Regions from separate parts of the Homo sapiens genome. Here region 1 is linked to region 2. The links come from fine-mapping of genetic effects on gene expression. A gene starts in region 2. The other region holds a variant in brackets. All regions are shown on one strand. Distances are from middle to middle.

Evidence for each region. PIP is the estimated chance that this variant, and not a neighbour inherited with it, causes the effect. A credible set is the group of variants that fine-mapping cannot tell apart.
Region 1: its variant is the best candidate, but not a certain one, in a credible set for the expression of LYRM2 in tibial nerve (GTEx, PIP 0.52).

What each region holds. Positions count from the first base shown.
Region 1 is chr6:89,667,891-89,673,425 of GRCh38, reverse strand. It overlaps MDN1 (midasin AAA ATPase 1), which reads left to right. Exons shown (of 102, transcript NM_014611.3): 80 at 1-190; 81 at 724-879; 82 at 1,063-1,226; 83 at 2,346-2,507; 84 at 5,275-5,412. The region is part of intron 1 of MDN1-AS1 (MDN1 antisense RNA 1); the gene reads right to left. Among named protein-coding and RNA genes, the nearest start is that of LYRM2, 32 kb to the right of the region's middle. RefSeq lists a silencer at 4,922-5,216. The variant T/C (reference allele first, on the strand shown) is at 3,385.
Region 2 is chr6:89,635,911-89,641,106 of GRCh38, reverse strand. It overlaps LYRM2 (LYR motif containing 2), which reads left to right and starts at 2,360. Exons shown (of 3, transcript NM_020466.5): 1 at 2,360-2,435; 2 at 3,225-3,365; 3 at 3,754-5,196. The coding sequence starts at 2,391. The coding sequence ends at 3,834. MDN1-AS1 (MDN1 antisense RNA 1) reads right to left here and starts at 2,575. Exons shown (of 4, transcript NR_111915.1): 1 at 2,471-2,575. RefSeq lists enhancers at 2,561-2,610, 2,831-3,060, 2,413-3,612.

The DNA of each region.
Region 1 (5,535 bases), 32 kb before region 2:
TTGTCCCAGGTGTCAGTTCATTTGCAGGGCCTAGAGTCCTTGTTCATTCTTCCAGGGATGGAGGTTGAGCAAAGAGACTCACAAATGGCACTAGTTGAAAGTCTGGAATATGTAAGAGGAGAAATTAGTAAAGCCATGGCTGACTTTACTACCTGGAAGACCCATCTGCTTACTTCAGATAGCCAAGGAGGTAAGGAATATTGTTCAGTCAGGGAATGAAAGTCCAGTGTAGAAATGATGTCTTATAGATGTAAGTCTCATTGTCCAAAAGACACATTATATTTTGGTCTACATGTACCTGTCCAGGGTTCTGAGGCAGGGAGGTGCGGTTGAAATCCACAGCTCTTAACTTTTTTGCCCCATTTGTTTGGATGCCTGTTACATACTTTGTAACACACATAGGAAGGCAGCATCAGCTCACTGTCTGTTTTCCCTTAGATTGAAAAAGCTTGGCACTGATATTTGGACTAAGTTAGTGTTTATTCATACTGTCTTAACTGTTATTTTTATATTTTTTACATTATTTTAGTAAAAATGTTTTAATACAAGGTAATAAACTTGTAGGTTTATCGAGGCAAGGAATTTGTCTCTTCTTTGTATCTGGCACAGCTTGACACAGTGGCTCATCAATAAATGAGTATTTTTAATGATTTCCAGAGGCACTAAAGCAAATGATTGGTGTCTTTTGTTTGTATGTTTGTTTTGCACCATGTTACCTGCTAGGAAATCAAATGTTGGACGAAGGATTTGTGGAAGATTTTTCAGAGCAAATGGAAATTGCCATCCGAGCCATCCTCTGTGCCATCCAGAACTTAGAAGAAAGAAAGAATGAAAAAGCAGAGGAGAACACTGACCAAGCAAGCCCACAAGAAGATTATGGTATGTCTGAAATCAGGCAGAAATTAGTTTCATGCCTGATTTAATTTTTGTATTTGATGATTTATTTCTGTGGCTAAATAGTTAAGGATGGATGTTAGAAACAGATAACTGCATGGATAGAGATAAAAGGATTTGTTTTCTGTTATTCATCATGTTGTTATTTTCTCTGAATGAATGAGGCAGCAGGCTTTGAGAGACTGCAATCAGGACATCTAACAAAACTCTTAGAGGATGACTTCTGGGCCGATGTGAGCACTTTGCACGTGCAGAAAATAATTTCTGCCATCTCCGAGCTGTTGGAGAGGCTGAAATCGTACGGTGAGGATGGCACAGCAGCAAAGCACCTGGTAACTAACTGTTCTTTACAAACTTCTTCCTCTTCAGAATGCACTGAGCAAAGGCAGAGTGGGCTTTACTTCCCTCCACGTAGATAAGTGCCAGAGCAGGCCTCAGTGCCAAAATCACTAAGAACTTGGTCTCTTTATTTATACGTGCAAAGTCATTGACAAGCTTTGAAGAGCTTAGGGCTTGCTAGCTAATTGTTAGATGCATAGGTGCAGAAATGCTAACCATTCAGAATATCCATTATATTAGGATTCTTTCATATCTTATTCACATACTCCCAAGTATCTGATGTTACTGATAGACGATGTTATCAACTGAGGCTTAGCAGCCATCCTGTGTAACCACCATTCCCACTACAATAAGCGAACAGAGTAAGCAGTTGTAGTCTTTACAGTAAGTCCAGAGAAGCAACTTACTTTGCAGGACATTGTATGTTATTCTGTAGCATTGCCTCCGGTGCTAACTTTGAATCAGCAGAATTTATTTATAAACATTTTATTTTTCTTATTTTATTTTGGGACACGGTCTCATTCTGTTGTCGAGGCTGGAGAGTGTGGTGGCATGACCATGGCTCACTGTAGCCTTGACCTCCTGGGCTCAGGTGATCCTCACACCTCAGCCTCCCAGATAGCTGGCAGTATAGGCATGCACCACCATGCCCAGCTAATTTTTAAAGTTTTGTAAAGATGGGTTCTGGCTATATGTTTTTTTTGTTTGGTATTTTTTGTAGAAATGGGGTTTTGCCATGTTGCCCAGGCAACATGAACTTGAACTCCTGGGCTCAAGCAGTCTACCCACTTTGGCCTCCCAAAGTGCTGGGATTAAAGGCGTGAGCCACTGTGCCTGGCCAACATTCTATTTTTAAAAAACCAACATTGTTAGCCAAAGGAGACATCGGTTTGAGATTGTACTTTTGTGACGATATATGTAAATGAAGAAATCTCAGTGAGCTGTGTGTATTGGGGTGGGTGGAGGTTACAAACACATACATGTAACTTGCCATTAGTACTATTTAGTACATTCACAATGTTGTGCAATTACCACCACTATCTAGTTCCAGAATGGAAACCTGGTACCTGCCAAGCAGTGTGAGCAGGCCTTTTGTTTTGTTTTGGTCTCAGTTCTTCAGCCAATCCTGTTCCTTGCTGGTGCGCCTGGTGCCGGTCCTCTCCAGCTACTCAGACCTCGTCCTCTTCTTCCTGACCATGTCTTTAGCAACTCACCGTAGTACTGCAAAGCTGCTCTCTGTGCTTGCCCAGGTCTTTACAGAGCTTGCCCAGAAGGTAAGGACTGTTCACATGGTGCACTGTGAGCAGCAGGGACCCAAGTAAATTTCATGTCATTAGTCTTTGGTGTGATAGGCTTTTATTTTGGACCACCACAAATAGCAGGATGTGATTTGCTCTCCCTGTGGATTATTTAGGGCTTTGTCTGGCATCCTTTTGCTAACGCTGTTTCCACTAAAGTCTCAGAACCTGCAGATGATACCTCCTATCCCCAACCCACCCTTTCCCCCAAACTGACGAGTTCCCTAAACTCCAGCGCTGTCTAAAAGCTGCTGCCGTCTGTTAACACCCTTCCCTTCCCATCCCCAATGTAAATCTTCAGATAACTCTTGAACTAGAGTTGTAGGATAAACCCTTAAGGCTATTAAGTTTTCTTTTAACCATGTTGGTGTAATTATGATTAAATGATAATGGGCCTGTTATTATTAGAGTGTTTTTCGCCTGTTGTGGTGGCTCACGCCTGTAATCCCAGCAGTTTGGGAGGCTGAGGCGGGTGGATCACCTGAGGTCAGGAATTTGAGACCAGCCTGACCAATATTATGATGAAACCCCATCTCTACTAAAAATACAAAAATTAGCTGGGCGTGGTGGCATGTGCCTGTAATCCCAGCTACTCAAGAGGCTGAGACAGGAGAATTGTTTGAACCCGGGGAGGCGGAGGTTGCAGTGAGCCAAAATCATGCCATTGCACTCCAGCCTGGGCAACAAGAGCAAAACTGCATCTCAAAAAAAAAAAAAAAAAAAATATATATATATATATATATATATATATATATGTTTTTTTGGAGACAGAGTCTCCAAAATTGTAATTGTAATTGTAATCTCCACGTGATTACAGGCACGTGCCACCACGCCTGGCTAATTTTTGTATTTT[T/C]AGTAGAGACAGGGTTTCACCACATTGGCCAGGACGGTCTCGATCTCCTGACCTTGTGATCTGTCCACCTCGGCCTCCCAAAGTGCTGGGATTACATGTGTAAGCCACTGCGCCCAGCCAGTTTTTTTCTTTAGCAGGGAAGTCATTTGTTCATTCAGCCATGTACCCGGTATTGTGAAAAGCACTGAGGTTGTAGAGATTGTAGACCCTCCCCTTGAAACTCAGGGGCAGTAGACAGTGAAATCTAACAGCAACATGGTGTGGGTAGGTCTAGTCATAGAGATATCCAGCTCTCGGTCTCTCTTAACCTCACCAAGCCTCAGTTTCCTCATTTGTAAAATGAGATCTGCCTATACTAATATGCATTTTTGTGAGAACCACCTGCATTTGAGTATATAAGTTTTGTTTTTGTTCTTAGCATTCTAAGATTTTCTCCAAGCTTAATACAGATGAGATGTACTTGAGGAAGATATGAATTTACAAACTGAAGATGGGGTCTAGATTTCTTATAAACAATTAAGAGTTCTTAGTTCCGAGTCTCTGAAATACTGGAAAGAGGTAAAAAGTGGAAGCCAAGCCTAATGCCTTGTATCAAGAGGATAAATATGTTTATCTGTAGTAATGATAAGTAACAGTAATAATAATAATAATAAAAAGTAATAATAAGTAAAAGAATGAGTCTCAGGTTTCTCCGCCTCTGGTGGGCACCAGGCCAGCCTTAACATTCCATTGCTTCTTGGAGAAAACACTGTATACTAAAGATAGTGGCAGGAAAATGTGTGGTTCGGGTGCCTTGAGATTTGGCTCAGCTGGATTTGTCCATTTGTACCGTAGCTTTTGTCTGACAGGCTGTAGAATGACTTTGGCCTTTCAAACCTTTGTCTGTTGCGGGTAGGAATGGTTCTGATATGTGCAGAATGTTGGGAGCCCTGTGGCTATCCCAGACGTAGCAGCTGCAATGATATACTCTGGTAAGGGCATCTGAAACTCCCTCCTATGTGGTCGTATTCTTTGTCTATTTCTGAATGTCTCTCATTTAAATAATGTAGTTCAATGGGAAAATTAAGCAAGTAAGCCAAACTGTATTTTCCTATCAACATTCTGAGAATATATGTCCTAAAAGTGGGTTTGGCTTGTTAAAAATTTTTCTAAGTGTCCAAATTGTATTCATATCTTTTCTGAGTAGTTCAAGGGAACTTGAGAGTAGGTTAGACAGTGCTAAGATAATAGATCTAGGCTGTAATTAAAGCTCTTGATCCGCAGGAAGCTGTTTCTGTGTAACCAAGTCATAATTAGTGTTTACTGGTTTGGGATCTTAATTCCTTGCTAATTAGCAGCTTATTTTTTTGTGCATTCCCATCCTCAGATATATCTTCATAGTATATATTTTCTCTTACAAAATTAAACTTTCTGATTGAGAGTCACTACTACTTTTTCTTTTTACTTCTGCTCAGCAGGCTAGTATTCTTCTCAGGTTATTTTCCTGTATAAAATAGTTTTTTTCAACATTTCACAGTTATTACTATGTCTGACTGTGTTCTCTCCAGAGCCTGTTCTGCCCTTACTCAAGGACTTTTTCCAAAATACTGTCCTTCTAGTATACTTCATTTAGGTTTTTGTCTTGGCAAAGTGACAAATGACCACATGCCAGAGGCTTCTACAAAGTCAAGTCATATGTTAAATCTGATGTCAAGCTGTGAAACTGCATAACTATTAGCACCAAAGAGGAGAAGAATGTCAGAAGTCTCCTGTACTTCCAGCGGATTTAAGATAATGAGCTAGAAAAAGAATTCAGTATGTGTTTAAATTGTTTTCCTGTGGCAAGAATGAAATCTCCTTTTAAAATTGCTTTTGTGCCTAATTGTTCACTTCCTTTTTCTTTTTTCTAAGGGATTTTGCTTGCCCAAAGAATTTATGGAAGATTCAGCTGGAGAGGGAGCAACTGAGTTCCATGACTATGAGGGAGGTGGAATTGGAGAAGGCGAGGGCATGAAGGATGTGAGTGACCAGATCGGAAATGAAGAACAGGTACGTTTTCACATAGGTATACAGTTGACAGAAGATCACTCTCTTTCTTTTCAACATGTAAGTTACACATAAAAATGGTTTTTACTAGGTTAATAATTTTTAATCTGTGATCTACAGAGCCCT
Region 2 (5,196 bases):
GTCTGGAATCCTCTTAGTGATTCTGCGTTTCTGACAAATACCTAGCTCAGACAAGCCCTCCAGGAAGAATAATTTCCCACAGTATGAACTGCAGCATTCTTTGTTAGCACTATATTGAACTTAGAGGTTTTCCTGCCCAAAGCATGAGTCTTTGAGCAAGGAGCATATGTGACTCACGACAGCATTACCAGTGTCTAGCAAGAGTGAGCCCTTTTTTTTTTTTTTTTTTTTTTTTAAATAGAGCTTTGCTCTTGTTGCCCAGGCTGGAGTGCAATGGCGCAATCTCGGCTCACTGCAACCTCCGTCTCCCAGGTTCAAGCGATTCTCCTGCCTGAGCCTCCCAAGTAGCTGGGACCACAGGCGTGCGCCACCAGGCCCGGCTAATTTTTTGTATTTTAGTAGAGACGAGGTTTCACCATGTTGGCCAGGCTGGTCTCGAACTCCTGACCTCAGGTGATCCACCTCGGTATCCCAAAGTGTTGGGATTATAGGCATGAGCCACCGCACCTGGCCTGAGTGTTTCTTGATGGGAAGAAGAAATAATGTAAAAATGTCTTTCTCACATATTAATGTATAGATTCAACACTACTTCAAAATTCCAACCAAGATCACAAGATGATTTGGAGGGAAATGATACAAAACATTTCTAAAGATTATAGAGAACAGTACTAATGGATTTTTTACAAGAAACTAGAGTCCTGCCAGATAATAAAAACATATAAAACAAAAAGTAAAAACTTAACCCTAAATGAAACAATTCTGGACAGATTACTCAGACCCTAAAAGAATTTATCATACAGTCAAAAAGGCATCCATCATAAAGCCCCGAAAAAGGAATGAGTTATGTAATCAATGGTATTGATACAGCTTAACATCTAGAAAAGAACTTAGATCCACGTGATGCTGTAAACCAAAGTAAATTCTAGATGGAGTAAATATTTTAAAAATTAAAGTTTTTAAAAAACGAATTACAAAGGCCTGAATGGGAAATGAAAAGCCTCAAAAGGCACAAAAATACATGATTGTATAAAGTTTCTGTATGTATAAAGAAATGACAAAAAATATAGAGCCCATATAAATGTCCTCATCATAAACGGACCCAAGTCATGAACAATTCACAAAAACAGTATAACTAAAAATGGCGAGGGGTATTTAACTTCACTCCTTTTAAAAAGTTAGCAATTAACTATTACAGCTAATGTATTAGACAAAATTTGGCATATATTATTGATAATATGATCATGCAGTTAGCATCATTCATACAATGCCTGGTAAAGTTCAAAAGAGCTAATGATTAGAGTTCTTACATGTGCCAGGACCTGTTCTCAGTACATTAGAGATACACAACTGAGGTAGATGCTATATTTCACTTTACAGGGGAGGTAATAGGCCAGGAGAGGGGAAATAGCCAGAACACAGCTAGGAATAGGGAGCCCCAGGATGCTAACAGGCGAGGCAAGCAAGTCCCCAGTAAACTAGTAATTGAACATTTTTCGTTCTATTTTAATTCGATACAACACCACTTGGAAAATTAATATGGCAAAGATTCGCTAACTCCACTTCTAGTGATTTAACCCAAAGGCATGTGTATTGTGGGAAAGATAAAACAACTATAAGGAAATAAAAGCAAAAGCCTGAGGCTTAGGGATGTTAGGCTCCTCGTTATTAGTGATGAAAAGTGCTTAAGACTGAAGTGGGTGAGCCATTCAAAGCTTTGTTTCAAATGATCATGAAGGCCACCGCTCCCGGAAAACCTTTGCGCTACAAAAGAACAGGACAAAAACGAGAAAGAGAAAAAACCAACACAAACTGTAAAAGAAATTAACACTTTCAATTTTAGTATTTTCAACTATACACATTTTTAAAGGCTCGAAAGAACATTTAAATACGTTTTCACCTCTTTCCCCCAAAAAAACCTTAACTTTTTTTTCGAGACAGGGTCTCGCTCTGTCGCCCAGGATGGAGTGCAGTGGTGCGATCTCGGATCACTGCAACCTTCACTTCTCGGGTTCAAGCGATTCTCCTGCCTCAGCATCCCGAGGAGCTGGGATTACAGGCACCTTACAGGCCTCCCAGAGTGCTTGGGACTGCAGGTGAGAGCCACCGCGCCCGGCCTCCTTCACTTTCATTTGAACTCTCTTTACCAGGAACTGTGTTAAGTGCCCTACCTTTCTTCTTTATCAAAACGACCCTATGGTGCACTGTTATCCTATTTTACCGACGAGAAAACTTCGGCCAGCGCAGCAGCTAGGGCTCAGTCCCGAAGCCTCGCGCTCTCAGTCCGAGAGCAACCCGCGGGCCGTCTCCTAGGAAACCGGGCTCGCCACACCCCTTGGTCGAACCCCACTTCCGCTCCTGCGCGCTGAGGCTCCGGCGGACCTCTGGTGGACATGGCTGCTTCCCGCTTACCCCCAGCGACGCTAACGTTAAAGCAGGTACCGGCGGTTCTCTGCCTTCCAAAGCAGCTTACCTGGGTCTGAGCTGGATTCTCCATCTGTCCCTATCCCCAACGGGGCGGGTTCCGGGGTCCTGATGCGGCGTGCGCGCCCTCTGAGATTGGCCCGATGCCTGCGGGGCGGTGCTTCGCTCCGCGGGGCCTGACGGGAGGCACTGGCTGCTTCCTTGGTTTGGTGCGATCGCGTGAGACAGCGTCAGGCGCTTGATTTCCCTGAGTCCCGGTGCCTCAGCTGCCCAGTGCCCACGGTAAAAGTCTATTGCACTGAGCTGTGGCAAACAGCAAATGAGATTACCAAAGATTTGAACAACTGTTAATTTAGAAAAAGTGCTGTCGTTGTAATAACAACTTCTAGGAGACCGGCAGCCCTTTTCAGCCCGGTAGGCAGCTCCTGATTTTTTAATGGTTCTTAGGTTTGACAGAGCAGTAAGCAAAAAGATCAGATGAACCTCGTGATGCTTTCTTTAAAACATCTTTTTGAGACAGGGCCTCACTCTCGCCCAGGCTGAGTGCAGTAGCGCAATGAAGGCTTACCTCAGCTTAGACCTCCTGGGCTCAAGTGATCCTCCCATCTTGGCCTCCCAAAGTGCTGGGATTACAGGCCTGAGCCACTGCATCTGGCCAAAAAAAGAAAAAAAAAAGTTTTTCTTTGCCTTTTTCAAAATTGACCAACGAGAAGTACTCTGGTTACAGCTTGGTTTGCTGAAGTAGAACTTTCCAGGCTGGCGATTGTGCAGTAGTAATTGCTATTTACTCCTCCCTTTTACAGTTCGTAAGAAGGCAACAAGTTCTTCTCCTCTACAGAAGGATTTTGCAAACAATTCGGCAAGTTCCAAATGATTCTGATCGCAAATACCTGAAAGATTGGGCAAGAGAAGAATTCAGAAGAAACAAAAGTGCCACCGAAGAGGTGAGAACAAAATCATGGTGAGGACAGATCCTAACCCTTTTTATTGATCAGTGAATTTTTTTTTTTAAGTTTAGCAGACATCTTGGAATATAGTGCCACTGAGCTGGTATATCTTGATCATTGCTTGTAATGTTACCGATTTTAAATTATTATTTTAAAATTTAGTATTTTAAAATATGTAGATAAAAGAGTATCTACACTCTTCAGCATCATCACTTGACTTTTATGTTGTACATTTTATATGTATGTATGTGGAACTCTTTTAGCTTTTCTAAAAGGCAGCAGTTCCAATAGGTAGTATTGGTTCTTGATTTTAACAGATAAAATGGTATAGCTATACCTTGTTTAACCAGGTAAAACTATAACCAGATTTCACTTTATTCTACAGGATACAATCCGGATGATGATTACTCAAGGCAATATGCAGCTCAAGGAGTTAGAAAAAACACTTGCTTTAGCAAAATCTTAACTATAGCATTATTCTGAAGGATTTTCAAAGTCTCCATGTGTTTTGTTGCATTTAGGATTAACAATGGACAACACAAAGCCCAGTCTTACTATTTATATGTACAGTATTTGGTGATAGAGAGCAAAGGAAAAACACATCAGAACAGTTGCCTTAACACTGAAAAACATACCCTGCATTTTGAAAATGTTTATGGATGTCTCAGCAGTTCTTAAAAGAAGAAAAAAACCACTAACAAATGGCCAGTAGATGCTGGACACAATCATTAGGGAAGTGTAAATCAAAACTACTATGAGGTCGGGTGTAGTGGCTCATGCTTGTAATCCCAGTACTTTAGGAGGCTGTGGTAGGTGGATCACTTGAGGTCAGGAGTTCAAGACCAGCCTGGCCAGCATGGTGAAACCTCATCTCTACTAAAAATACAAAAATTAGCTTGGTGTGGTGGTGCATTGCCTGTAGTCCCAGCTACTTGGGAGGCTGAGGCAGGAGAATCACTTGAACCCAGGAAGTGGAGGTTGCAGTGAGCTGAGGTCGTGCCACTGCACTTCAGCCTGGGTGACAGAGTGAGACAGTCTCTAAAAAAAAAAAAAAAAAACAACCCTGAGATTCACATTCACTAGAATGGCTGTAATTAAAAAGAGAAATAATAATAAGTCTTGGTGAAGATGTACAGAAATTACAGAACCCTCATACATTGCTGGTGGGAATGTAAAATGGTGTAGCCACTTCAGAAAACAGACGGTCAGTTCCTCAAAAGATGAAACAGCTGCTGTATGAGTTAGCACTTCTACCCCATGCCCATAGCCATTATTTGGCACTAAAAAGAAACGAAGGACTTATATATACTAAACATGGATAAACCTTGAAAACGTTAAGTGAAAGAAGCCGGTCACAAAAGATCACATGATGATTCCATTCATACGAAATGTCCAGAATAGGCAGAAAGATTAGTGGTTGCCTAGGCTGGCTGTAGATGGAATGGAGTAACTGCTAATGGGTGTAGGGTTCCTTTTCAGGGTGATGAAAATATCCTACAGTTAGCTTGTGGTGTAGGCTGCACAACTCTTGAATATATTCAAATCCACTGAACTGTACATTTTAAATGTAAGGTATGAATTGTATCTCAATAAAGCTGTTATTAAAAAACTCTTGAGGTGTAGGACTGAAAGTATACTGACACCAGGAGATACCCTGGAACTTTCTCGAAAAATCCTGCATTATCCCTGAGGGTTGTTCAGGTACGTTCTTCAGATGTGTCATAGTTTGATAGAGAACTCATCAAAAAGATCACCACTGGGAATCTAGATCTTTGTTGAAAAGGGAAGAGAAAGAGAAGCTTAATGAGCACATTGAAGCACTTACCAG